4 linked regions of the Homo sapiens genome follow. The protein of the gene in region 1 purifies or fractionates together with the protein of each later gene. This does not show direct contact. Each region holds a gene or a part of one and is shown on either strand. Other genes may lie near its edges.

The links.
Region 2: the proteins of CNKSR3 (region 1) and VCPIP1 purify together in Homo sapiens (co-immunoprecipitation; 3 studies listed by BioGRID and IntAct, with this or other methods). This does not show direct contact.
Region 3: the proteins of CNKSR3 (region 1) and ARHGAP39 purify together in Homo sapiens (affinity purification with mass spectrometry; 3 studies listed by BioGRID and IntAct, with this or other methods). This does not show direct contact.
Region 4: the proteins of CNKSR3 (region 1) and NISCH purify together in Homo sapiens (co-immunoprecipitation; 3 studies listed by BioGRID and IntAct, with this or other methods). This does not show direct contact.

Annotation. Positions count from the first base shown.
Region 1 is NC_000006.12:154,500,661-154,507,685, reverse strand, and holds part of CNKSR3 (connector enhancer of kinase suppressor of ras 3), read left to right. Parts: intron 1-7,025. UniProt on the Homo sapiens protein: Involved in transepithelial sodium transport. Regulates aldosterone-induced and epithelial sodium channel (ENaC)-mediated sodium transport through regulation of ENaC cell surface expression.
Region 2 is NC_000008.11:66,629,223-66,636,247, reverse strand, and holds part of VCPIP1 (deubiquitinating protein VCPIP1), read left to right. Parts: intron 1-875; coding exon 876-1,747; 3' UTR 1,748-7,025. UniProt on the Homo sapiens protein: Deubiquitinating enzyme involved in DNA repair and reassembly of the Golgi apparatus and the endoplasmic reticulum following mitosis. Necessary for VCP-mediated reassembly of Golgi stacks after mitosis.
Region 3 is NC_000008.11:144,675,829-144,682,853, reverse strand, and holds part of ARHGAP39 (rho GTPase-activating protein 39), read left to right. Parts: intron 1-7,025.
Region 4 is NC_000003.12:52,486,584-52,493,573, forward strand, and holds the end of NISCH (nischarin), read left to right. Parts: intron 1-612; coding exon 613-2,022; intron 2,023-2,752; coding exon 2,753-3,095; intron 3,096-3,491; coding exon 3,492-3,648; intron 3,649-4,121; coding exon 4,122-4,250; intron 4,251-4,768; coding exon 4,769-4,930; intron 4,931-5,288; coding exon 5,289-5,899; 3' UTR 5,900-6,485; downstream 6,486-6,990. UniProt on the Homo sapiens protein: Acts either as the functional imidazoline-1 receptor (I1R) candidate or as a membrane-associated mediator of the I1R signaling.

The sequences.
Region 1 (7,025 bases):
GACCCTGAAATACAGCTTAGTAGAAAGACCTGGATACGTTCTGTGTTCGAATCTAAAAAAGATGGCTAAGATGATAAGAGGCTGCAATCTTCCAAGTTGCGTGACCCATTACTTGAATATTTCTCATAATAATGATGCTCAAGTATTGACTTTTTAATGAACTATCGACTTACAAAAGCTCGTCTGCTTATAGGACTATTTTTAGTGCTCTTTGCTAATCTCTTTACCCAACCTTTATTTTATAAATACATGCTACTGATAAGCAGCTCTTCATGTAGACTTTGCTACTCTTGGTATTGCATGAATCTGGGTAGGGCGATTATGAGAACCATAGAAGGCCTTAGATTTAAAACTGTCTAAACCTGGCCACAGTCGACAGCTGGATCTCACCTCCTTGTTATTTGACAGATGTGTGCCTTAGGAAAGAAGTTCTTGTCTACAGAATGAATTAACCTGTCTGGCTTTTATTATTAATGTTTAGCTACACTGTCACCAATTTTACCGTAATGTTAGTGGATCCTCAGTAATTATTAAGCAGTGTGTCAGGCACATGTCTAAGCATTGTACAAATATCAGCTCATTTAATAGGCACCACCACCTTTGAGGTAGGAACAGTTATTTCCATTTTGCAGTTGAGGAAACCGAGTCACACACAGATTGACCGATGTCACCCAGCAGAGCAGGTGGTTTGGCTTCACTCCACTCCATTTTCTCAGGAGTTTCTTCCCAAGGCCACATCTAGACCACACCGACAATCTTTACATTTATGAATAGAACTTCAGGATTCGGTCTGAATAGCATATGGTAGCGGAGGAGTCTCATCCAGTATATGTCTGTGTTATTCTCTATCTTTAGTTCATGTCAGAAAGTTATTTGTAAGTCAAATTAATTCCTAGTTCATGGCGCCTTGCCAGTCAGTTCAGTAAAGGCCTTTGCAAAGCAAATGATCTTTTACAACGTGTAGGGTTAGCCGCACATAACAGAAAACCCAGTGGGTTAACCAAATTGGGGTTCCATGGCGCTGCCATCTTGTTCAGCCATTCGTAGCACATGGCGTAGGGTATGGCCTGGCACATGGTGTTCATTTTCATACTTAATGCTTCAGTGCAAGGTGGCGGCTCCTGCATGATTGTCTTCCTATTCCAGGCAGAAGGGAGTCTCATGGAAGACAGAAGACAGGTAGCAGCCAAGTCTTCCCCTTTAAAGAGTTCTTTGAAAAACTGTCAAGTGACCTGGTTTACATCTCAGGTGCCAGAAATGTCACATGGCCACCTCATGCAGCAGGGAAGGCTGGTTGCTGTAATTTCTTTCTTTTTCCTTCTTTTGTTTCTTTTCTTCTTTCTCTTTCCTCCCTCCCTCACTACCTCCTTCCTCCCCTTTCCTCTCTTTTCCTTTCTTTTCCTTTTCATTTCTTCTTCCTTTTTTGCTTTTTCCCTTCCTTTCTTTTTTTTTAAGTTTGGTACATTGTGGCCCTGAAAAAAACTTGGAGTTTGGTCAGAAAGGAAAAAGGGGAGAATAGATATTGGTAGGCAGGCAACAGGGATTTACATGCACTGATTTTCATAGCTCAGTTCTCAGAGTACACATGTGCCACATTCCCTACTTATATCCAGCCCTGTTTTAGAAAAAGCATTATATCTTCATTCCTGTCCAACCTTCTTAGGTCAAAATCTGAACTTATATGAGGTCCTTTTCTCTAAGCTTGATTTAAATATGAGAAATTTCATTGTCAAATGCAGCTACCACAAGTCGTTTTTCTGCTTTAAAAAGGCCACTGGGGAGTGCCTTCGACGAGGAAGACGTGGGACTGGTTGTCCCAGCAGAACTGTCCTAGCCTTGGCTGTTGATCAGCCTCGAGTGGGTAGGCTCTCAACAATTGTGTAGTTGGCCAGGCGCGGTGGCTCACGCCTGTAATCCCAGCACTTTGGGAGGCCGAGGTGGGCGGATCACAAGGTCAGGAGATCGAGACCATCCTGACCAACATGGTGAAACCCCATCTCTACTAAAAAATACAAAAAAAATTAGCCGGGTGTGGTGGTGGGCGCCTGTAGTCCCAGCTACTCGGGAGGCTGAGGCAGGAGAATGGCATGAACCCGGGAGGCGGAGGCTGCAGTGAGCCGAGATCGTGCCACTGCACTCCAGCCTAGGCGACAGAGTGAGACTCTGTCTCAAAAAAAAAAAAAAAAAAATAATAATAATAATAAAATTGTGTAGTTGAGTCAGCACATCTCTAAAACCCACCTTTGGTCCCAGGACAGAAGTCTCTCTGGCCAGCTTCTGGTGCTGCTAGTGTTGGTAGCAGTCCCCATCACCAACCAAGAGAAAAGGGGGCTTTCTTGCTCAAGGTCTAAGCCACGGGACTTGCTCTTTCCCTGTCGTGTCTATTTGTTTATGACACATAGCAGTCTTAAGGTGCTTGACTATTTGGCCATGGAAAGTCTGGAATTTCCAAGTTAACTACAGAGATCTGATACATCACAGGTCAACTGCAATGTACTACCTTGCACTGTTAGGCCCTTCCTGCCACCGTCCAGACAGAGGCAGTTCTTTCTGTTACCTTGATTCCAGTTTAGGTTATACCTTCTCTTTTAGTCTCTGTGGTCCCTGGGAAAGGGAGGCCTTTTTGTTTTAGCAGCCGTAGGTCTACCATTTGGCCATAGTTCAGAAAAGCTCTTCATTCCACCCTCTCCTTGGTTCCATTCACTCTCCTGCACTCCAGTGATAAAATTCTCTTAATAACAGAAAAACATTGATTGATGCACTTATTATCTTGGCAGACGCTGTTCTAAGTGTTTATTTAGGCTCTCTCATTATAAAACTTCTTTACTTATTATTTTTTAATACAGAGATGGGGTCTCACTCTGTTGCCCAGGCTGATCTTGTCCTGAGCTCAAGTGATCCTCCCACCTCGGCCTCCCAGAGTGCTGGGATTACAAATGTGAGACATTGCACCTGTCCAGCCTCTTTGATTTCATCCTTAGAAAACCCAGTGAGGTGTTTGAATAATTTCCAGCCCATATTAAAGAAACTGAAGCAGAGAGAGAATTTGCTCAGGGTCCCCTAATTAGTAGTTGTGGTCTCCTTGGGGCTCTCCTGTACTCCATCACTTTGTCACTTTGATTACTTGTACCAGGGGGTGGAGCTGAATGGTTCAGAGCATGGGCTCTGGAGCCGGACTCAGTTTGTATCCCAGTTCTGCTTTTGACTGTGTGATCTTATGTAAGCTCTCCATACATTTCTACTCCTTGTTTTTATTGCTTTCTCTCTTCCTTTTTCCTATAGCTCCAGGACACAAACTGTTTTCTCTGAGCAGTGAAGTCTTTCATAAGGTGTATTCTTATCATCCAGGGGCACCTGTCAGTGTCAAAGAGATTTCTCTGCCGTTTACCAGCTGGTCAGAGGATCCGGGGCAGAACTTGCAGCTGATCAGGAAGGTTCTTGATTAGCGGAGTGATAAATGCCTCTTGCAAATTTCGTGAGCTTTCCTTGGGTAAATTAGTTTGAGCCATATTTCCTCACTTTTAAAAAATAGTACCTGGGCTTGCAGTGAGCATGGCATAGGATGGTTTTTGCTGTCAACTGTTGGCCCCTGTCTGGTACCTGGTCTGTGACCAGCAACTTCAGCATCACCTGGGAGCTTGTTAGAGATGCAGAAGCTTGGGCCTGCCGAATCAGAATCTGCATTTTAATAAGATCCCCTGGCGATTCGTGCACCCATCACAATTAGAGAAGCACTGTTCTAGCACGTAGCTGCAAATGTGTTTTCAAACTTTGCTAGAGTCCTGCTATTGTAGTATTGGGCTATCTGGTCTGGTATGTACTCCAGCTGTTTTATTTACATTCTGGAATGATGACACTTAATTTGAGAAGGCTTGTCTTTGCCACTAATTAAAGTAAAAAACCAGTCTTACGGTGTGTGCTTATATTTATAAGCACCACCTAGCAACAGCATCAGGCAATTCTTAGCAAAATAAGTGAGACATTTCCCTTGAGATTTCTTCCTTATTCCTTGAAGAGTTCTTATAACAGCCTTTTTTTTTTTTTTAAATAAGAGGCAGGGTCTTGCTCTCTTGCCCAGGTTAGAAAGCAGTGGTACGATCATAGCTCATTTTAGCCTCAAACTCCAGGGCTTGAGGCTTGAGTGATCATCCTGTGTCATCCTCCCAAGTAGCTGGGACCACAGGCACATGCCACTACACCTGGCTAATTAAAAAAAAAATCTTTGTAGAGATGGGTCTTGTGGTATTGCCCAGGCTGGTCTGGAACTCCTGGTCTGCAGTGATCCTCCCGGCTCGGTCTCCCAAAGTGTTGGAATTACAGATGGGAGCCACCATGCTCAGGACCAACCCCTGCCCCCCTTTAAAAAAAAATCTTTAACACAAGTAGTAAGAAGGGAGTTGTGGGGTGGTCAGTGGTCACTGTGGTTGAAGTTTGTTCTCAGGATCCTCAGTAGGACCTAGGAGGATGAGATGGGCTTTTGGCTAGTCACACTATCCTATAGTTGGTGACCACACGGGGTTTACCACACTTAACTGACTTTTGGTGGAGATTTTATTGTTGATGGGAAATGACACCAAATGTCATTTCAGGAATAAATAACCATGGCAGTTCTAAAAACTTGGCACAAATATATGAGTTGCGCTGAGACTGGGGTAGCTCCATCCTTTATCCATGGAGATTGGCAAGTGACAACTCCTGCTCCGGCTCCTTCGTGCATTCCCCTTATTGTGAGGAAGCGAGAGGGGCCCTCCCGTCTGTGTCCCCATGCCTGTGTCACTGCCTCTCTTTTCACCCAGCGTGTTGTCTTCTAGCTCCCGGACCTGAGCGTTCTTGCCTTGCTTTCTCTCTTTCCTCTCATTTATGCTATTTCTGGCGTGTCATCACTGGCTTACCCATTATGTAAGCTTTAAGTGAAAAAATCAGATGTTATTTTCATGAGCTCTGAGGGCACTTCTGCATTTGTTCTCATTTGACTCTTCTGAAGCCTGGAGATGCACAGGAAGGCAGTTTCCACTGCAGATGAGCAGCATGGAGGAGGCTTTTGGAAGTGAAATGAATTGTCCAAGGTCCAGAGGTGAGGAGCTGGGACCAGGCCTCACAGGCTTCTGTTCTGTGGTCCTGTCCCGTCCCTGGTTTCTGCTCTATCCAGGTGGTGCCTTCTAGTTCCTTCCTAACCAACAAGTGTGGGAGGCTGGGTGTGGTGGCTCACGCCTGTAATCCCAGCACTTTGGGAGGCCGAGGTGGGTGGATCACCTGAGGTCAGGAGTTTGAGACCAGCCTGGCCAACATGGTGAAACCCCGTCTCTACTAAAAAAAAAAAAAAAAAATTAGCTGGGCATGGTGGTGGGCACCTGTAATCCCAGCTACTCAGGAGACTGAGGCAGGAGAATCTCTTGAACCCGGGAGGCAGAGGTTGCAGTGAGCTGAGATCGTGCCACTGCACTCCAACCTGGGCGACAAGAGCAAAACTCCATCTCAAAAAAAAAAAAAGAAGAAATATAGGGAAAGCCCTTTGCATAACGTATGGCATATGTGTGGAATTAAAAGAGGAAATACAGGGAAAGCCCCTTGCATAACGTATGGCGTATGTGTTTACCCACTTATTATTCATGATCAATAATAACTCAAGTTAACTGGTGGTGTAATTGGGATATTTTTATTTAAATGTTTAATATTGTTGTGGCTGATTGTCACCCTTCATGTGCTTATTAATAATTTATGACAATTCCATTCACCCTTTTGTTGTTATACAGGAGGTAAGTTAAATCAAGTCCGTCTTCGGTCTTCTCATTGTTTCCTTGGACGCTTTCCCCCTGTTCTTAGGGGAATCTTCTCGGTTTTAGGTATTGTTCTAAGTGCTGGGAATCCATAGTCCCGGCTTTAGTGTGGTAGATGTGTGGGTGACAAACGCCACCACCAACCACAAAACAGATGATAAGAAAATTTCTACTGATAAGCATAAATCAGAAAATAAAGCAGAGAGGTGAAGGAGAGGGACTGGGTGGGGGACTCCTTTGGATGACGTCATCAGAAAGCCTTTCAGAGGTGACATTTAGGCATGAATGGTAGGAAGGAACCAGCCATCAGAAAATTAGGGAGAAGGGCATTCTAGGAGAGGGAATAACTCATGCAAAGGCCCTGAGGTGCGAACCGGCTTGGAGAGTTTGAGAAAAGGAAGTTGTGGTGGGGTCATGAGAGCGAGGGTGGGGGTGATGGGTGAAGAGCAGGTGAGAGAGACACACAGAGGCCAGATCATGTAGGTTCTTACAAGTCGTGGTCAGGGAGGTGCAATTTTTTATTTTTATTTTTTAATAGTTACGGTGGAAAGCAGAGAGTGACAGTATTTGATCTGTGTGTTGAAAGATCAGTCAGGGTTTTTGAGCAGAAATGAATTCAGGAAATCCAGCTGGAAGGCATTGCAGTATTCTGGAGGCGATGGTGTCTTGGATTCAGGTGTTGGCAGTTTCAGCCTTTGTGAAGCCAAGTTCTAGTTACAGTTGGGTCATTGACAGCTTCCAATCTCAGTAATGTAAACATTATATTTGAAGTTGGGATGTCTGCTCATTCTTTCCCCTCCTGCCAGGGCTAAGGTAGATGCTCTCCTCTGCCCCTGGCTCCTCTCTGGCCAAGTATGATGGTCATTTAGAATAGAGAGCGCCCTCTGTCTTTCTGCCTTGTTCACATCATTGTTATTTTCTGGCACTTTTTGCTGCGGCTAGTTTCTGAAGCTGTTTATTCATCTATGAATAGAGTTTTTGTGAAATTGGACTTAGCCTACTTTGTTTTCTTTGACATCAAATGGCTGATTGAACATTTTTAAACCTGGGATCAGAAGGGCAAATATGGTTGTTTATTAAAGCAAAGCAGTTCCTTAGAATGCGAATCAATAAGATGTAGAAATTAGAAAGCTTTCTATGTGAAAACTTTTAAAGTATTTGAGTAAAGAAACTGGTGTATCTGACTTAAAATATTTTGCCCTACTGAAAGACTATCCTAATGTTTGCTTTAGAAACTATAGCTCCCAT
Region 2 (7,025 bases), on another chromosome or scaffold:
TTTTTTTTTTTGAGATGGAGTCTTGCTTTGTCACCCAGGTTGGAGTATAGTGGTATAGCGGCGCCATCTTGGCTCACTGCAACCTCCGCCTCCTGGGTTCAAGCAATTCTCCTGCCTCAGCCTCCCCAGTAGCTGGGACTACAGGCTCACACACCACCATGCCCAGCTAATTTTTGTATTTTTAGTAGAGACTGGGTTTCAACATTTTGGCCAGGCTGGTCTTGAACTCCTGACCTCAAGTGATCCACCTGTCTGCCTCCCAAAGTGCTGGGATTATATGCATGAGCCACTGCACCTGGCCTCAAGCTCCATTCTTTTTTTTTTTTTTTTTTTTGAGATAGAGTTTCACTCTTATTGTCCAGGCTGGAGTGCAGTGCCGCAATCTCAGCTCACTGCAACCTCTGCCTCCCAGGTTCAAGTGAGTCTCCTGCCTCAGCCTCCCAAGTAGCTGGGATTACAGGCGCCTGCTGCCATGCCCAGCTAATTTTGTGTATTCTCAGTAGAGTTGGGGTTTCACCACGTTGGCCAGGCTGGTCTCGAGCTCCTGACCTCAGGTGATCCACCTGCCTTAGCCTCCCAAAGTGCTGGGTTTACATGTGTGAGCCACTGTGTGACCTCAAGCCCCATTCTTAACTTTGCTGTTAGTTAAGATAGCAAAAAAATTTTTTTAAAAAAGATTCTCTGGGGAGAACTACTTTAGGGTCTATGGCGGTGGTTCTTTTTTGTAATACAATAAATCTGAATGAATTTTGTTTTGAAAGCTGTTATCTGTAAATTGTTATTTAAAATTCATTATTTTAACTATAATTGTCTTGACTACACTTTTATTAATACCTTAAGATTTTAATATGTTAAATATCTTTTCCCCTTTTTAGGTATGGCTGATGGCAAGCATTGTACTTTTCCACATCTGCCTGGCAAAACCTTTGTCTATAATGCTTCTGAAGATAGACTGGAATTGTGTGTGGATGCTGCAGGACATTTCCCCATTGGTCCTGATGTTGAAGATTTAGTTAAAGAGGCTGTAAGTCAGGTTCGAGCAGAGGCTACTACAAGAAGTAGGGAATCAAGTCCCTCACATGGGCTATTAAAACTAGGTAGTGGTGGAGTAGTGAAAAAGAAATCTGAGCAACTTCATAACGTAACTGCCTTTCAGGGAAAAGGGCATTCTTTAGGAACTGCATCTGGTAACCCACACCTTGATCCAAGAGCTAGGGAAACTTCAGTTGTAAGAAAGCATAATACAGGGACAGACTTTAGTAATAGTTCCACTAAAACAGAGCCTTCTGTATTCACAGCTTCTTCTAGTAATAGTGAGCTTATTCGAATAGCTCCTGGAGTAGTAACAATGAGAGACGGCAGGCAGCTTGATCCTGATTTGGTTGAGGCCCAGCGAAAAAAATTGCAGGAAATGGTTTCTTCTATTCAGGCTTCAATGGACAGGCACCTTCGGGATCAAAGTACAGAGCAGTCACCATCTGATCTTCCTCAAAGGAAAACAGAAGTTGTGAGTTCTTCTGCAAAGTCTGGGAGTCTTCAGACTGGTTTGCCTGAATCTTTTCCTTTAACTGGTGGTACTGAAAATTTGAATACAGAAACAACTGATGGCTGTGTAGCAGATGCACTGGGAGCAGCCTTTGCCACAAGGTCAAAAGCACAAAGGGGAAATTCCGTGGAGGAGCTTGAAGAGATGGATAGTCAAGATGCTGAGATGACTAACACAACTGAGCCAATGGATCACTCTTGATTTAATTAGAGGCTAATAAAGGCAGAATGTTTATTGTGAATATGTAATATTTGTTGGCTGGGCCACGTAACTTGATTAGTCATTAAAAATCTTGTACGTATATAATTCAAAGATTATATCTTGTTATTCAGTGCATGATAGCAAGTGTGTGATTGGCCATAGCTTTTAATATACTGCTGCCCAGGCTGGCTCTGAATTTCTATAAATTAGCTGTTAGATCTGCTGAGATGACTTTCTTCCATATATGTGGTTCATTGGAAGTTCTTTGTAATTTTAATTCCATGAAAGTCTTAATGTTTCCAACATGAAAATTCTCTTACTTAAATACGTTTGATTTCTGAAAAGCCTACAAATGGAGGGGAAATGAGATTGTGCTAATGTTGATGTCATCAAGGTAACCATCTCATATACTAGTGTCAAAAGGTTTATGTAAACTTGAATTTTATCTGAACTAAATTGTATCTTAAAATTCATACAATTATTTATTAGACAGTGGAATGCAAATGTTTCTATGAACGTAAACACATTCATAGAGATTTCTTGGCGAAAATATCTTGAGAATAGAATGTAACGATATAACATTTTGCTGATTTGTGCAAGATTGGGGAAAAATTTCTTCTAGATTGATGAGGTCAATGTGATTCAGTTGTGTTGCTGTCTGAGCCACAGCCAATTGTGTGTGCTCTATTAATATGTTACCATTATTTTTGATTCCTGGCTTGGTCAAGAACAACCTGATTTTTTTTTTTTTAATCTTGCAGAAAAGTTGATTGCAAAGTGTGGTAGAAAAAGAAATAATGGTAGCAGTAGAGAATTTATAAATAAGAGTTTATCTTTATGAATGAGTTAATTGTTCTACAATTTTGATCAGTGGTATTTAAGCCTGTATATGCTAAGTGTATTTATGCCCCTTTGAGCCAAAATTTTTTTTTTTTTTTCAGAATCCATAAGAGTTTATTTGTTGGCTTCACTTGGGTTTAGATGCAAATTTTACTGCATCACACCCTGATCAGCTGGGTATTTGCTTAGTGTATTCATCAAATCTTCAGTGCCAGTTTCCTTGAGAAGCAGCTTTCATGCTTATTCCTTAAAAACAACAGAAGAGTGTTTATCCTGAGATTGGTATTGCACTATTTTATTTTATTCTGCAAATCTGTATCCTGAAGTGTACATTTCAACCCATATTCTTCTCTGTTCACTGAAATTAAGTTGAATTTGAATGGCTGAAAGACAAAATATATGTTAATACAATCTCTTACCTAGAGCATTCAAAGCCTGGCTGTCTCTGTTTGCACATGTAACAGATGCAGAACTGTGTTTGTAATTCTAAGAAAATGTATGTCAGAAAGTATTTTATCAGATGTTTAAAAATCTCTGCCTGTTGATTCATAAGGGATATAGACAGTACTTTAACTTGTGTTTCCAGATAAGGCAGATTTTGGTCATCTTTCTGTGAAAGTATCTCTAACTGAATCCACTTCTTAAACAAACTACTCTATTTTAAATAAGGAAAGAATGGAGAATCTAGACATTTTACAGGTGTATCTGAGCAAAATATATATTTGGGTTAGTTTTTATCACATTATCACGTTTGTCTTTATATTTTATCTTCATCCTAAATTTTCTCCCTATCAAAACAGCAGGAAATTTTTAAACTTTTATATTGTACACTATTTTTGCATAAAATAAGAGCTGTAGCTACCAAATACTATTTACTACTTAGTAAAGGTGGCTTCTGTGTATTAAACTACGAATTACAAATATCACTTCACTAACCACTATAATTATTTTTGGCTTTTTCAGCCACTGGAACTTTTTTTGGGGGGATTTAAATACAGGAAAACTGTTTAAGCAAAAAATGCACTGCTTTCATGTAAAATGATATAATCTTCTTTAACAAATATTTTCTTCATTGATAACTGACAGATATCTCATAGCATTAACATAAAATACCAGAAACAAACTTTATCTCCCTATTCTTACATTTAGTGCAAATTGGAATGCGTATGTGAATGTTAGAAGATGGACTTAATCTCTGACAACTTTATTAATTTCTCTAGCTACAGCAATGCTATTTAAAAGCCAGTTAGGTATGAATAGTACAGTAATAGTTTGGGTTCTCCCTTGATAAATGAATAAAAGGCTCAATTCTGATAAGTGATCAAATTTCTTGAAATTCTTTCAAATCAGCTGAAAATTTGGTTGGGGTGAATTGATGGTTTTTGAGAAGTAGGCCAGGTATCCTCACAAAGAAGTTTTAGAATAGGGTTTCTTTTAAGTTTTTAAATATCATCCTTTGTCTTTCCATATGGTTTTCATAACCAAATACATGACTATAGCATGGTTATTTTTCTAGTACTGCCATTTGTGATATAGCCACATCTTGGCGTGCAAGCTAGACATCTCAGGTAAATTTGTTTTTTTTTTTTTTTTTAGCCCTAGAGGTAACATTATAACTAAAATGCATTCCTGCAATTCTGTTTGCAGTGCTTCACTAAACATTGAAATAAAGTTGTAAATTTTTTCTTCAGTAATCCATTTTATAGTTAATCATACCAAATTTAAGTTGATGACCTAAAGTCCAGGTAGTGTTGAAGATAGTATGTATCTAGAATACTGGTAATGAGAAATTGTTGTAAATTGAAGAAAACAAGATGCTGCCATATATTAAGATAGAATATAATTAACTCCATGAGAATGGTTACTCAGGAACTAGTTAAAGAGCAAACCCATTTCTCCCGCTTCACTCTGTTTCAGATATTTTTATTGGAAAATGTTAGGGTAGAGGCCTGAGAAAGTTAGCAAATGCTATTGACTGATACTGGCTCTGTGTCTTCCAGTGATTTTTAGTTTGGTTTTTACAGTCAAGCCTACTGCTTGCAATTAAGATATCAATCTGAAATGCATCTGTAATTCCTGGCCACAGGTCCTTATTGCCATTATTTTTAAGTATCTTCATTGGAGATGAACACTGACTTTTGCATATGGTCTCTTACCTCAGGGAAGATCACTTGCTAGCAACTCATACTACTAATGACAGGTTTTTGAGAATTGTACTGACATCACATGTTAGCTACTAAATGCAAAATGTATAAAAGTATTGTTTTATGTAGTTACCTACCAATACTATCTGCTACTGAATAACTCTCTAAATATGTAGACCTCACTAATAACTAACCTTTAGGTAAAAAATTTACTTCTGTCATTAATTACACTTCAACTGGTCAATATAGTGGCAGCATAAAGTGTTTATTTCAGAATATCAATACAGTTTTGTCTTCATTTTTCAACAGTAATTTCAATTGGTTCATACTTAAAATACTACACAGATTTTGAGTTTTATGGTTCTCAAAGCAAGGTTTCCATCTTAAGATTTTTATAAACACAAAGCCTTTGCAAAATTGGATTAAATTCCACCTATCTTAATGTGAATTAAAAACCACCATTTATAATAATAATAGCGCCATATTCTAAGTTGAGTAAATGCATCCTACCATTCAAGGTTATCATATAATTTAACAAAATTGTACAACCTTAAGGCTCTTCACAGTATAAATTAATTTTTCAAACCAGAGCTGTTCACATGAAAATATTCCTTAGTAGAATGTATATTTAAGAAATAAAACAACAAAGGGGAACTATATCACCCATGTAAGTTATAGAGTTAATTACAAGTTCTACCATTCTTGATAATTCTTTGAGATGCTAAGTGTTTCAGTTCATATTTAATGATACTTAAATCGTGGGAATTTTAATGTTTGTTCCAAAATAGCAGAAATTGTAAAAATTATGAATTATTGGAGAAAATGCCATTACTTGTATATCTGACATTTAATTTTTTAATTATGGAGACTACATGCTTTTGTAGTATAATATTAATGATTATTCTCTTGTAAAAGAAAAGGAAAAATTAGTAAAGAAAAAAGTTTTAGTTGATGTTACCTGCTTGTGAGTATCAATTACTTAGTTTTTAAATTTTTAAGGTATTGCCTACTTTTCTTTAGAATGCAGAAATCTCGTCCTGAGCCCTTATTATGCCTGTGGTAGAGCAATGCAAGACTGAAAAGGTTGCCAGTATTTTCAGGCTTATTTGACTAAGAATTAGTGCCAAGAACTGGAAAGTCTACTTTTTGGAGGGAAATGATACTTAGAATTTGTAAACATAAGCAGTAATAGTGTAAATATTTAGAAAAATAGCAAGTGCTTTAACTGCTCAATAAAATAGTATAGATGTTATTTCACCCTTAAGGCACTGGCTGTTGCCCATTATTTTCCGATTTCGTGATTACTGTATATATTACATTTGAGTAATGAATAATTGGTAATAGTGTATTATAGTGTTCTACAGCACACCTTACTGTACAGTATTTGAAGTTTTCTTTTATATCAATAATAAAACTATAAGTTAATACTGATTTTCCCCTGAAATTCTCCACATTAGCTTTTAAAGGTAATTTTATGTTCTTTAGTTTCCTGGAATTATAATGCATGAACATATAGTTCAGTTTTATAAAGAAATTCTTAAATAATAAAGTTTTCTTGTTGAACTTAAGCGGGTTATCGTACAGGAATAGTGATTTTTCCCCTTAATGTAGATTTCATTGCTAGATGAAATGGACCCAGTGAAAAAAGAGTGCGCAATTTAAAAAAAAACCAAAACGGTCTCACTCTGCTGCCCATGCTGGATTGCCGTGGCATGATCAGGGCTCACTGCAGCCTCAACCTCCTGGGCTCAAGTGATCCTCCCACCTCAGCCTCCTGAATAGCTGGGACTACAGGCATGTGCCACCACACCTGGCTAATTTTTGTATTTTTTGTAGAGATAGGGTTTTGCCATGTTGCCCAGGCCGGTCTTGAACCCCTGAGCTCAAGTGATCTGCCCTCCTCTGCCTCTTTAAGTGCTGGGATTACAGGCGTGAGCCACCGCACCCTGCCAGCAAAATTTCTTTAGACATATTACATAATTGGGCCATAATGCTTACTGAATATTTAAAAATGAAGGCAAATTCTAACAGAGAACTTGATTTTGTGGTGGTTTAAAAAAATACTGGTTAGTGATAAGGAAATGAAAGGAAATACAGATAATAGTACTAAATAACGTTTGTGTAGCTTAGCAGTCAACACGTTTACTTCCAAGTTTTATTGTATATGCTTAATATACATTTTATTAGATCATTTAACTCAATAATTTAGAGTATAGCCTTAGACACCAGACTGCCTAGGTCTGACTCCTGGTACGCTGCTTTCTGTGACCTCTCTGTGCATTCCTCTCTGCGAG
Region 3 (7,025 bases), on another chromosome or scaffold:
TTTGTTTGTAGAGATGTGTTTTGCCATGTCACCCAGATTGGTCTCAAACTCCTGAGCTCAAGTGATCCACTTGCCTTGGCTTCCCAAAGTATTGGGATTACAGGCATGAGTCACTGTGCCCAGCCTGCCATTGTTGTTATACTTCTCAGTATTATCCTTGCAACAGAAACGGTGATTTATTAAAATAAACGTTAAGTGACAGGGAGGACATAACAGAAAGTGAGAAGGTGGAATCACCAGCAGTGTAACATTCTGCCTGCTAAGCTGTTGTGAGAAGTAAGAATTTTTTTTTTTTTTTTTTTTTTGAGACAGAGTCTTGCTCTGTTGCCCAGGCTGGAGTGCAGTGGCGTGATCTCGGCTCACTGCAAGCTCCGCCTCCTGGGTTCACACCATTCTCCTGCCTCAGCCTCCCGAGTAGCTGGGACTACAGGCACCTGCCACCACGCCTGGCTAATTTTTTGTATTTTTAGTAGAAACAGGGTTTCACCATGTTAGCCAAGATGGTCTCGATCTCCTGACCTCGTGATCCACCCGCCTCAGCCTCCCAAAGTGCTGGGATTACAGGAGTGAGCCACCGCGCCCGGCCTTTTTTTTTTTTTTTTTTTTTTTGAGATAGAGTCTTGCTCTGTCACCCAGGCTGCAGTGCAGTGGCGAGATCTCGGCTTGCTGTAAGCTCCGCCTCCCAAGTTCACGCCATTCTCCTGCCTCAGCCTCCCGCCACCACGCCCGGCTAATTTTTTTGTATTTTTAGTAGAGACGGGGTTTCACCGTGTTAGCCAGGATGGTCTCGATCTCCTGACCTCGTGATCTGCCCGCCTCGGCCTCCCAAAGTGCTTGGATTACAGGCGTGTGCCACCGCACCCGGCCGAGAAGTAAGATTTAACTTGTTTCAGAACATAGTGGAAAGATTCCCCATATTTCTCAAGGAGATGGTCCTCCTCAAGTCTGGTCACCTCTTCCCTCTGTATCTTAGCTTTACCTTAGAAAATCGCATCTCATCACCTTCATATTGTGTGACACAAAGATTAGGGAAAACCCTTCCACCTTTAGTAGAGTGTTTTGAGATTTGTGACCTTTAAAGTGAGAATATTTAATGTTTAGATAGTGGTAACACAAATAGCCTAAGATAGATTTTTAAATGCCCATCCCAGTTTTGTCTCCTACCTCTCTGCTGGGATGGGCTGTGGAAGCTACATGCTACATGGAGAGTTGGCATGTCCTTGAACAATTTATCAATAGTAGTTCAGAGAATGCAGCCTCCTGGTAGGCTTGTACTGGCTTCTTTGGTGCTGTTGAAAAAAAGTCCATGAAATACGCTCTTATATTGAAACACCTACTTCTACTAGCAAAGCCCCTCTGCTGTGCCTCTTCGTTGACTCAAGGTCCTGCGTCATAGACCTTATGCGATCCGTCTCACAGTTAGCTTTGCAGGTGTCCTGTAAAGACACCACAAGGCATGGCTCAAAAGAGTAGACTCTGGTGTTCAGCCTGTGGAGCAGACTCCCTCGCAGAGCTGGACAGACTCCCTCGCAGAGCTGGACTACCCTGCCTGGCCTGTCTCCTGTCCCTTCTCGTTACCTTTCTTGCTTCAACAAGTGAAATCCTTACCCTCTGACACTGGCTGTCTCTGCTGCCACTGTGCTTGCCTCGTTGTGTCTTTCATCTGCCACTTAGACTTGTTCCCAAGTTTATCTGACAAGTCTTTGCTGTGCCCTGAGGTTGAGTCTGACCCTGACTTCCATACCCTGGCCACACTGTTTCCACCTGCTGTGATCCTCCTCCTCAGCTGGTCTGCACGCCAACTCCTCTGCCACTTCTGCTGTGTTTGGTATCAAGACACCTGAGACCAGGATTTTGCAGGGGTAGTCTTCCCTAAAACTCGTGTTGGTCACTGGTGCCTGCCATCCTGCTAACCCCCTGAAATGTGATGGTGACAAAGTAATTTTATTATCATATATCTGAGTTTTGTTAACATGAAATAGCACCCCCCTCCATTGATAATCTTGTTATGAAACTCGTACCAGTCTTTGACATAGTTCGTGTATTGTGAAAAGAGATTAGTGGCCGCTATTATGATCCATTGGGTGGAATTTTTCTTGGTGCAACATTTAGTGTGGCTTTCCCCTCCTTTTCTTTTGAGTTTTTGGATTTCTGTGGGAAAACCATAATATTTAGCATTAATAATTTTTTTTTCAATTTTGTATGCAAGTGTTTTCCAAGTATTGTTTTGTAGTTTTAAAATCGAACATCTAATTTATGCTCAGTTGTACGTACATTGTAGTGCCACAGACATGCTTTCGGGGAACTTAAAAAGAAAAAATCTGCTACGGATATGAGTCCTTCTGTGATTAAAGGCCTAACCCGTACTCCAGACCAGGGGTCAGTACACTGCAGCCCCCTGGCAGACTCCTCTGCGTGTTTTTGTAAATGAGGTTTTATTCAACAGCTGCGCCTGCTTATTTCTGTGTTTTCTGTATTGTCCATGGCCGCTCTGGCTGAACTGACTCCTTGTGCAGAGGCTGTGCGGCCCGCAAAGCCTAAACCCTTTGTTATCTGGGCCATTTACAGAAAAGTTTGCTTTAGAAGTTTAAAGGGGAGATAATTGCAGGGGGCTGCAGCAGTGAAGGGAGGCTTCAAGACGAGGTGGTCTTCTAGCTGAACCGTACTCAGTGGGATATGAAGAGGGAAGAGTAGGGACATAGCACTGCAGACAGAAGTATTTTCACATTTTGGGAGCAAAGGTGAGAAGGTTGGTTATGTGTGGTTTCTAGCGGTTTAAAGGTTGTGTAAGGAATAATGGGAGATAAGGGTCATAATGAGAAGGTCTTTGAATTCCAGTTAAAGGCTTTAGATTTTAATTTTCTTTTTGTTTTTGAGATGGAGTCTTGCTCTGTCGTCCAGGCTGGAGTGCGGCGGCGCGATCTCGACTCACTGCAAGCTCCGCATCCTGGGTTCACGCCATTCTCCTGCCTCAGCCTCCCAAGTAACTGGGACTACAGGTGCCTACCACCATGCCCGGCTAATTTTTTGTGTTTTTAGTAGACACGGGGTTTCACTGTGTTAGCCAGGATGGTCTCGATCTCCTGACCTCGTGATCCGCCCGCCTTGGCCTCCCAAAGTGCTGGGATTACAGGCGTGAGACACTGCGCCCGGCCTAGATTTTAATTTTCTAGCTAACCGGGAGCCACCGCAGGCAGCTTTGTGAGCAGGGGATGTCCTGATTAATGGTTTAGGGAGATTTAATTGGCAATGTTCTGTAGGATGGGTTGGTGAAGGAAGAAATCCAAATCCAGGAGTTTACTGGACAGCTTTCTCCAGAGCGAGTTGCAGTAGCAACCCCAGCACTGCAGCGCTCACAGCAGCAGAGGCTGATTCCTGCCCGCGTTTCGTTTGCTTGTGACTCTTTTCCAAGAGTCTTCATTTCCAGATCCAGGACCAGGCCTTATGTGGCACATGCTGTTTTTATGGCAAGAGAGTGGCAGAAACCTAGTGTCTTTTCCGGCACCATCCTGGACTGGCATCTCAGGGTCCACGGACCAAAGCAGGGTGTGACGTACAGCCTCCTATGGGGAAGGTGAGCCCCTGCTCGGACGCTGTGCTGAGCAGAGCTGAGGAGCCCGTACCTGCTGTCTGGGCCATCTCACCATGACTGAAGGTGCAGCTGGATGTCTCCCCTCAGCCGCAGATGCTGGACGCTGGAGCCGGCCACCATGCGCGAGAGCCCCTGAGGCGGCTCAGACTCAGCACCCACATTCACTTCTGGCCTCAACCCTTTGGGGCTTTGGGACCTTCACCTGCTTGGTCACCACCTAGAATTTTGGCGTGCTGGGTCCCCCTCTCAGCTGCCATGTGGTACGGCTCCAGGTCCTCTTGCCAGTTCCCCCTGAACAGTGATCAGAACCCCTGCCTGAGTGGGACCTGCACCATGTCCCTCCTGCACTACGCTGTACCTCCTGGGGCTCTCCTGCCCCAGCCTTGAGCCACTCCCCTGTCTCTGCCACATAGCTGCTCAGATGATATAAACAGGGCAGTGATCTCCCCAGGGGTGATTCTGACACCACTCCCCGCCCTCCTGCCACATTTGGCAATATTTGGAGACATTTTTGGTTGTCCCAACTAGGAGGGGATGGCCAAGGATTTGTGGAGGCTGGGGATGCTGTTGAAATCCTACAGTGCACAGGATGGCGCCAGGCTCAGAGCGTCTAGGCGAGTGACTCTGCTGCCTGGCTCTCCTCCCTGGCTCCCCAGTGCCTCCTGGACCATGCTCCACAGCGCTGCGTGACCCCAACCTACTCTGCTCTCCAGAAAAACTGCCATGTGGTCATGGGCCAAGTCTTTCTTGGCGTCCCTCCTTCCAAAACTAAGCCAAGCTCACTGGTTCCTTCAGCCCTTTGACTCAGACTCAGGTAATGTCTGTGGGAGCGCCTCCTGGATCGCTGCCTTGTCCTCAGGTGCTCCACCCCCTCTCGTAGTGCTCTAGGTGGTGCTTTTGGTCACTGCACAATCACATAATATTTTCTCCCCTCTAGACTGGGAAGTCCTTGAGGGCAGCAGATACATTTGTATTTTCTTTTTTTTTTTTTAGAGAGAGAGTCAGGGTGGGTTGTCCAGGCTGGAGTGCAGTGGTATGATCACAGCTCAGTGCAGCCTCCATCTCCTGGGCTCAAGTGATCCTCCCACCTCGGCCTCCGAAAGTGCCAGGATTGTAGACATGAGCCATGGCACTTGGCTGTTTGTGTTCTGAATGTCTTGCTGCAGATTGCAACATTTTCTTTGAGCACTGGCTTCAGTAAAGATGATTGGGTTTAGGATGGGGAGTTGCCCTCAGAGAATGGCTGGCGCAGCAGGGGGAGGGACTCGTTGACACATTTCCCACGTCGGCTGCTTCCATCTTCCTGGGCCTCTCTTGTAACTTGCTTTCCTAAGTGTAAATGTCTTGATTCTCACAGATTCTCTATTTTTGCTTCCTAGAAAGTTTCAATTTTGTTTAACATTTTTGAGCAGATAATATACGTGGTTCAAAAGTACAAAGGGAGCTCAGTGAAGCCTCCTAGTCTCTACCCTGGAACCTGGTTCCCCTGGAAGCTTTGCTGGACCAGCTTCTTGTGTATCCTTCTAGAGATACTTTGTAACTTTGCAAGCAAACAAGTGTATGTATTCTGTTTTTTTCCTTACCCTTTTCTTTTTAAAAAGTTTCTGAACCTTGCCTTTTTCAACTATGTTTGAGAGATCTTTCCATATCAGTACATTTTCCGGTACATTCTTTCCATGGCCGCACTGTATTTGGCTGTATGGAGGTGCTGTGGAATTTTCATGCTGTTACCAGCAAGGCTATAGGCACAGTGTTTTGCAAATGTACCTGTAGGACCCATCCTAGAAATAGCATCTCTTTCTTCAATCACCGTTTATTCCGTCACATCAGGGTTTGCTCTTGTCTCTTAGTGTCTTTATTTCTGCACTTCCTTTGGTCATTTATTTCTCCTAATTATCTCATCTCTCTATATTTTAAATAATATAGTAGGTCAAATTAAATGAATGTCTCAGTTGGAAACTGGTTCACCTTTTGTGTGTTCTTTTGGTTGAGTGACTGGAAATATACACGTCCACGCAGAAGCTTGTCCATGAGTGTTCACAACAGCCAGAAAGTGGAGACAACCTAAATGTCCATCAGCGGATGAACGGATAAACACAATGTGGTCCATTCCTGCAATGGAATATTATTTGGCAATAAAAGGAAGTGAGTTACTGATTCATGTTATAACGTGTGTGAACCTTAAAAATATGCAGGCCAGGCACGGTGGCTCAGGCCTCTAATCCCAGCACTTTGGGAGGCCCAGGCGGGCGGATCATGAGGTCAAGAGATCAAGACCATCCTGACCAACATGGTGAAACCCTGTCTATACTAAAAGTACAAAAATTAGCTGGGCGTGGAGGTGAGAGGTGACAACGTGCTGGCAGCCCTCGCTTGCTCTCGGCGCCTCCTCGGCGTCCGCTCTGGCCACGCTGGAGGAGCCCTTCAGCCAGCTGCTGCGCTGTGGGGGCCTCTCTCTGGGGCTGGCCGAGGCCAGAGCCGGCTCCCTCTGCTCGCAGAGAGGTGTGGAGGGAGAGGCGTGGGCGGGAGCCGGTGCTGTGGCTGGCGCCTGCTGGGCTTGATCTGGGACGAGCTTCCTCTGGGCTGCCGGAGTGCCCGGGCTAGGTGCCGTGAAGTCCCACCATTGAGAGGTGAAGCCGGCTGGGCTTCTGGGTCGGGTGGGGACTTGGAGAACTTTTCTGTCTAGCTAAAGGTTTGTAAACACACCAATCAGCAGTCTGTGTCTAGCTAAAGGTTTGTAAACGCACCAATCAGCACTGTGTGTCTAGCTCAAGGTTTGTAAACGCACCAGTCAGCAGCACGTGTGTCTAGCTCAAGGTTTGTAAACGCACCAGTCAGCAGCACCCGTGTCTAGCTCAAGGTTTGTAAACGCACCAATCAGTGCTCTGTGTCTAGCTAATCTAGTGGGGACTTGGAGAACTTTTGTGTCTAGCTAAAGTATTGTAAATGCACCAATCAGCACTCTGTGTTTAGCTGAAGGTTTGTAAACATACTAATCAGCACCCTGTCAAAACGGACCAATCAGCTCTGTGTAAAATGGACCAATCGGTGGGAGGTGGGTGGAGCCAGATAAGGGAATAAAAGCAGGCCACCCAAGCCAGCAGCGGCAACACGCTGGGGTCCCCTTCCATGCTGTGGAAGCTTTGTTCTTTTGCTCTTCGCACTAAATCTTGCTGGTGCTCACTCTTTGGGTCCGCGCCGCCTTTATGAGCTGTGACACTCACCGAGAAGGTCTGCAGCTTCACTCCTGAAGCCAGCGAGACCATGAACCCACTGGGAGGGAAGAACAACTCCTGACGGGAGGAAGGAACAACTCTGGACATGCTATCTTCATGAACCGTAACACTCACCGCGAAGGTCTGCAGCTTCACTCCTGAAGCCAGGAAGACCACGAACCCACCGGAGGGAACGAACAACTCCAGATGCACTGCCT
Region 4 (6,990 bases), on another chromosome or scaffold:
GTTTTTAGTAGGGACAGGATTTCGCCATGTTGGACAGTTACATTCTTAAAGGGCTGCTGAAGATCGTATGGACATGGTAGCCCATAAATCCCAAAATGTGTACTCTGACCCTTTACAGAAGCTTACTAACTCCCACTCTACATGTGAGGGCTGCGGTGGCCAAGAAGAGCTGGAATTTAAGTGTGAAGGTCCTAAGACCTGCCCCAGCCCACTTCCCTGCCCCGGAGGCCACCAGGGGTGACAAGTAGATTCATGCCCTGGAGTGTTCCTTCTCTCCGGGGCTTATGGCAGCAACTGAATGACTTAGAAGTCCATGGGAGTGCTTCTGTTGTGGGAACTCGTGTGGTCTGGGCATAGCTGTGCCAGGCACCTATGGTCCAAGCCCCTAGAAGCATAGACTCTGACCAAACTGGCGACCCAGCCTTCCAGCAGGCAGCACTGGCTCCCACCAGGGCCCTCATCCTGGGAACTGACTTGGCCATGTGGGAGGCTTGGGAGACCCATGGGTTGGTTTCTCAGGGTCAGGGTGTAGCAGTGGGCTCCAGATGTGGCAGGTGGGAGGTGGGAGGGGCCCCTCCCAGCATGCCACTGACCTGGCCTCTCCCTGCACAGCCCAGAACATGCCGAGCCGGAGGTCCAGGTGGTGCCGGGGTCTGGCCAGATCATCTTCCTGCCCTTCACCTGCATTGGCTACACGGCCACCAATCAGGACTTCATCCAGCGCCTGAGCACACTGATCCGGCAGGCCATCGAGCGGCAGCTGCCTGCCTGGATCGAGGCTGCCAACCAGCGGGAGGAGGGCCAGGGTGAACAGGGCGAGGAGGAGGATGAGGAGGAGGAAGAAGAGGAGGACGTGGCTGAGAACCGCTACTTTGAAATGGGGCCCCCAGACGTGGAGGAGGAGGAGGGAGGAGGCCAGGGGGAGGAAGAGGAGGAGGAAGAGGAGGATGAAGAGGCCGAGGAGGAGCGCCTGGCTCTGGAATGGGCCCTGGGCGCGGACGAGGACTTCCTGCTGGAGCACATCCGCATCCTCAAGGTGCTGTGGTGCTTCCTGATCCATGTGCAGGGCAGTATCCGCCAGTTCGCCGCCTGCCTTGTGCTCACCGACTTCGGCATCGCAGTCTTCGAGATCCCGCACCAGGAGTCTCGGGGCAGCAGCCAGCACATCCTCTCCTCCCTGCGCTTTGTCTTTTGCTTCCCGCATGGCGACCTCACCGAGTTTGGCTTCCTCATGCCGGAGCTGTGTCTGGTGCTCAAGGTACGGCACAGTGAGAACACGCTCTTCATTATCTCGGACGCCGCCAACCTGCACGAGTTCCACGCGGACCTGCGCTCATGCTTTGCACCCCAGCACATGGCCATGCTGTGTAGCCCCATCCTCTACGGCAGCCACACCAGCCTGCAGGAGTTCCTGCGCCAGCTGCTCACCTTCTACAAGGTGGCTGGCGGCTGCCAGGAGCGCAGCCAGGGCTGCTTCCCCGTCTACCTGGTCTACAGTGACAAGCGCATGGTGCAGACGGCCGCCGGGGACTACTCAGGCAACATCGAGTGGGCCAGCTGCACACTCTGTTCAGCCGTGCGGCGCTCCTGCTGCGCGCCCTCTGAGGCCGTCAAGTCCGCCGCCATCCCCTACTGGCTGTTGCTCACGCCCCAGCACCTCAACGTCATCAAGGCCGACTTCAACCCCATGCCCAACCGTGGCACCCACAACTGTCGCAACCGCAACAGCTTCAAGCTCAGCCGTGTGCCGCTCTCCACCGTGCTGCTGGACCCCACACGCAGCTGTACCCAGCCTCGGGGCGCCTTTGCTGATGGCCACGTGCTAGAGCTGCTCGTGGGGTACCGCTTTGTCACTGCCATCTTCGTGCTGCCCCACGAGAAGTTCCACTTCCTGCGCGTCTACAACCAGCTGCGGGCCTCGCTGCAGGACCTGAAGACTGTGGTCATCGCCAAGACCCCCGGGACGGGAGGCAGCCCCCAGGGCTCCTTTGCGGATGGCCAGCCTGCCGAGCGCAGGGCCAGGTGAGATCAAGCACAGCTCTCAGGGGCCCCGGGGGCATGGGTCTGGCATGTGTGTGATCTCAGCATCTGCGGCTAGTGTGGGCTGGGAGTTGCTGCGAGAGCTGGGCCCCCTCCCCCCCTGCCCCTCGCCCCCCCCGGGCCTCCCTCTACATCACCACCCCAGGTTTGGTGCCAGGCTGCTCCTTATCTCAGTGCTGTAGAAGAAGCCCAGGAAAGCTGTCCTCTCACAAAATGGGTTGGCCCAGCCTCTTGCCACCCATGAAGGGCAGGCCAAGGGGGCTGCCCCACCTTTGCCTGCCCAGTGGGAGAGCAACAGGCTGCAGCACACCGAGGCCAGGAGAGCTGTCACCCTGGCTGCTGTGCTCCTCTGGGCCCAAGCATGGCCTCTGGGCACTACCTCCTCCAGGGTCACAGTCCCACGGATGGCTCTGTGGGCCAGGATCTGCCTTAGGCTTCACCCACCTCAACATCTTGCTGTGTTGTTCAGGCTGGTCTCAAACTTTGGGCTCAAACAATCCTCCGCCTCAGCCTCCCAAAGTGCTGGGATTACAGACATGAGCCACCGTGCCCGGCCGTGCTGTTCTGTTCTCCAATAGAGAAGCTGGTGGAAGTCCCCAGTAACCCAGAGGTGATGTGTGATGCACACAGTCTCCTCACTCTGAAGCTGCACATGCGATGTGAATCTTCATTTGGGGTCCGCTGTTAATATGGTGTTTTTCGGGGGATACAGCAATGACCAGCGTCCCCAGGAGGTCCCAGCAGAGGCTCTGGCCCCGGCCCCAGCGGAAGTCCCAGCTCCAGCCCCTGCAGCAGCCTCAGCCTCAGGCCCAGCGAAGACTCCGGCCCCAGCAGAGGCCTCAACTTCAGCTTTGGTCCCAGAGGAGACGCCAGTGGAAGCTCCAGCCCCACCCCCAGCCGAGGCCCCTGCCCAGTACCCGAGTGAGCACCTCATCCAGGCCACCTCGGAGGAGAATCAGATCCCCTCGCACTTGCCTGCCTGCCCGTCGCTCCGGCACGTCGCCAGCCTGCGGGGCAGCGCCATCATCGAGCTCTTCCACAGCAGCATTGCTGAGGTAGCGGCCCGGGTGTGGGTGCCAGCTATGGCACGGCCAGTCCTGAGGGCGAGGCCAAGCTTGGCTTCAGGTCAGCCTCAGGTCCCTGGACTTCCCTGATGTCGGAGTCCTCAGCTGAGCTGCTCACAGCTTTGAGGACCTGGGCAGTGAGGTCCTGAGTTGCCCTCCCCTGGCCATTTGTGCTGTGTCACCACCTCCTGTGCCACTTCCAGCCCCAGGTAGACCTCCCACCAACAGCCATCTCCCACCCCTCTCTTCCTCTCTGCCTTGAAGCATACGGATTCATTGGTGAGCCAAGAGGGGCTTCCCATGTCTCCTTGTGGAAGCTGTGGGCATGTCCCTGGTATGTGCAGGTTGCTAGGGTGGTGGAGCTGACAGGAGGCCCCCCGTCTTCAGGTTGAAAACGAGGAGCTGAGGCACCTCATGTGGTCCTCGGTGGTGTTCTACCAGACCCCAGGGCTGGAGGTGACTGCCTGCGTGCTGCTCTCCACCAAGGCTGTGTACTTTGTGCTCCACGACGGCCTCCGCCGCTACTTCTCAGAGCCACTGCAGGGTAGGCACAGGGCCTGCTGGGGCTCAGGAGCTTGGAGTGTGTGGTTGGGGCAGGCCTGGGGGGTCATTCTCTGGAGCCAGCTGTGTGGCTTCAGGCAGCAGTCAGCGACTTGGCTGCAGTGGGCTGAGAGTTCCTTGTCTGAGGAAGGGAGCTGTCATGAGGGAGGGGTCCATGGCCAGATGTGAACGCAGAATGCACTGAGCCAGGGCCTGGTGACTGCTTGGGAACAGCCAGTGATGAGAAGGGGTTAGGCAGCCTTTGCCCCTGGGGCTGCACAGGAAGCCCTAGCCAGCGACCTGGTGACTCCCCTGAGCTGGAAGAGGCTCCGACTCCAGAGGGCATTGCCTATGGGGCTTTGCACGGGTGGAAGCCAGGCCAGCCAAGAGGACCTGTTCCTGCTGGATGTGCTGCACACCTAGGAACCTTGTGCTTGCCTGCCACCGCCTCCCTCTGTCCCTTTCTCCATCACACAGATTTCTGGCATCAGAAAAACACCGACTACAACAACAGCCCTTTCCACATCTCCCAGTGCTTCGTGCTAAAGCTTAGTGACCTGCAGTCAGTCAATGTGGGGCTTTTCGACCAGCATTTCCGGCTGACGGGTGGGTGACCCTCTGTGCTTTGTCCTATTTCGGGTGAAGGCCAGCATCACCAGTGGGCTTCCACCTTCCGTACGTGGGTGGGTTATCATAGACAGTTATCTCTGTGCTCAAGAGCCACTTCTTAACCGGGGTGGGAGGAAGCAGCTTCAGGAACTGCTGAGAGAGCAGAACTCACGCTCCAGGGCTCAGAGCAGGAGGTAGGGTGTGCGGCAAGCGCTGGCCCGGACAGAAGCAGAGTGGGCCCTGGTCTCGGGCAGGATGTTTCTGACTCACATTTCCTGAGGAGAGAAAGCTAAGCTCTTTGCCTAATGTCTCTGTCTCCCCTTCCAGAAAAATGCCTCAGCTCTTCCGGCCTGAAGGAATGGCCTCCTCCCGGGCCCCATGATTCTTTCCTGTGTGGGCCCTCCTGGCCCTGGCCTCTGGGCTGAGGCTTGCTAGGGACTCGGGGTGGCTCTAAGGGGCAGGGATAGGGCTGGGGAGCGCCGGCCTGTGGCCCTGACCAGCCCCTTCTCGTGCAGGTTCCACCCCGATGCAGGTGGTCACGTGCTTGACGCGGGACAGCTACCTGACGCACTGCTTCCTCCAGCACCTCATGGTCGTGCTGTCCTCTCTGGAACGCACGCCCTCGCCGGAGCCTGTTGACAAGGACTTCTACTCCGAGTTTGGGAACAAGACCACAGGTACCCCTGTCTAGCTCAGGCTGCAGACAGGCTGCCTGGACAGACGTCATGGGCCCCAGGGTGGCTCTCTGTGCCCCAGAACCCTCTCTGCCTCTATGTCTCTCTTTTCTCACTTAGCTGGCCAGGGTTTTATGTGGGGCTTTTCGATGGCAGAGTCTCCACTCCAGCAGTCCCTCAACCATCTGGCAGACACATCTCCAGTGCCTGCTTTGGGCTCCTGGCCTGTGGGCCCCACACTTGGAGCATCCTCTCCTGCCTGTCTCATGCCGGGGTCTCTCGGTTGGCTTGGGGCCCTTGGTGCTCCCAGCCCCACCAGGGGCCGGTTCCAGGCTATAGCCCAGGTGGCATCTCTCTGCAGGGAAGATGGAGAACTACGAGCTGATCCACTCTAGTCGCGTCAAGTTTACCTACCCCAGTGAGGAGGAGATTGGGGACCTGACGTTCACTGTGGCCCAAAAGATGGCTGAGCCAGAGAAGGCCCCAGCCCTCAGCATCCTGCTGTACGTGCAGGCCTTCCAGGTGGGCATGCCACCCCCTGGGTGCTGCAGGGGCCCCCTGCGCCCCAAGACACTCCTGCTCACCAGCTCCGAGATCTTCCTCCTGGATGAGGACTGTGTCCACTACCCACTGCCCGAGTTTGCCAAAGAGCCGCCGCAGAGAGACAGGTACCGGCTGGACGATGGCCGCCGCGTCCGGGACCTGGACCGAGTGCTCATGGGCTACCAGACCTACCCGCAGGCCCTCACCCTCGTCTTCGATGACGTGCAAGGTCATGACCTCATGGGCAGTGTCACCCTGGACCACTTTGGGGAGGTGCCAGGTGGCCCGGCTAGAGCCAGCCAGGGCCGTGAAGTCCAGTGGCAGGTGTTTGTCCCCAGTGCTGAGAGCAGAGAGAAGCTCATCTCGCTGTTGGCTCGCCAGTGGGAGGCCCTGTGTGGCCGTGAGCTGCCTGTCGAGCTCACCGGCTAGCCCAGGCCACAGCCAGCCTGTCGTGTCCAGCCTGACGCCTACTGGGGCAGGGCAGCAGGCTTTTGTGTTCTCTAAAAATGTTTTATCCTCCCTTTGGTACCTTAATTTGACTGTCCTCGCAGAGAATGTGAACATGTGTGTGTGTTGTGTTAATTCTTTCTCATGTTGGGAGTGAGAATGCCGGGCCCCTCAGGGCTGTCGGTGTGCTGTCAGCCTCCCACAGGTGGTACAGCCGTGCACACCAGTGTCGTGTCTGCTGTTGTGGGACCGTTGTTAACACGTGACACTGTGGGTCTGACTTTCTCTTCTACACGTCCTTTCCTGAAGTGTCGAGTCCAGTCCTTTGTTGCTGTTGCTGTTGCTGTTGCTGTTGCTGTTGCTGTTGGCATCTTGCTGCTAATCCTGAGGCTGGTAGCAGAATGCACATTGGAAGCTCCCACCCCATATTGTTCTTCAAAGTGGAGGTCTCCCCTGATCCAGACAAGTGGGAGAGCCCGTGGGGGCAGGGGACCTGGAGCTGCCAGCACCAAGCGTGATTCCTGCTGCCTGTATTCTCTATTCCAATAAAGCAGAGTTTGACACCGTCTGCATCTTCTAAACCAAGGGTCACTGGGATCCCAGCAGGGCTTCCGTCCAGGGCGTGGTCACATGGGGGAGGGAGGGTGCCCTGGAGACAGGAGGGTGAGGGGTTGGGGGAAAGGAAGGAGCAGCCCTCCAGGAGCCAGATGCTTCTTGGAACATGGGAGGCATGACAGGGCCATGGCCTCTCTGGACAGTGCCATGCTGGGCTGTGGCTAAACCATGAGCGCAGGGCAAACAAGAAACTCCTCAGGGCACCCCTGACACACCAGCCGCTGCCCCTCTGCCTGGGTGCGGGGCATGCCACCCTCTTCAGGCTGTCCTGCAGGTCTTATGTGTCAGTCACCCCTGGGCCCAACCCCACCTGTTTCACAACCCCTGTTGAGAGTGGGGGAGGGGCGAGGAGGACAGAGAGATCCCAGAGTCTGAGGTGGCTGGTGGGGGCCGGGGCATCTCACCAAGGTGGCCCTTGAATGGCAGCAGGGGAGGTCTGTGGGGAGGTGGACCCAGGT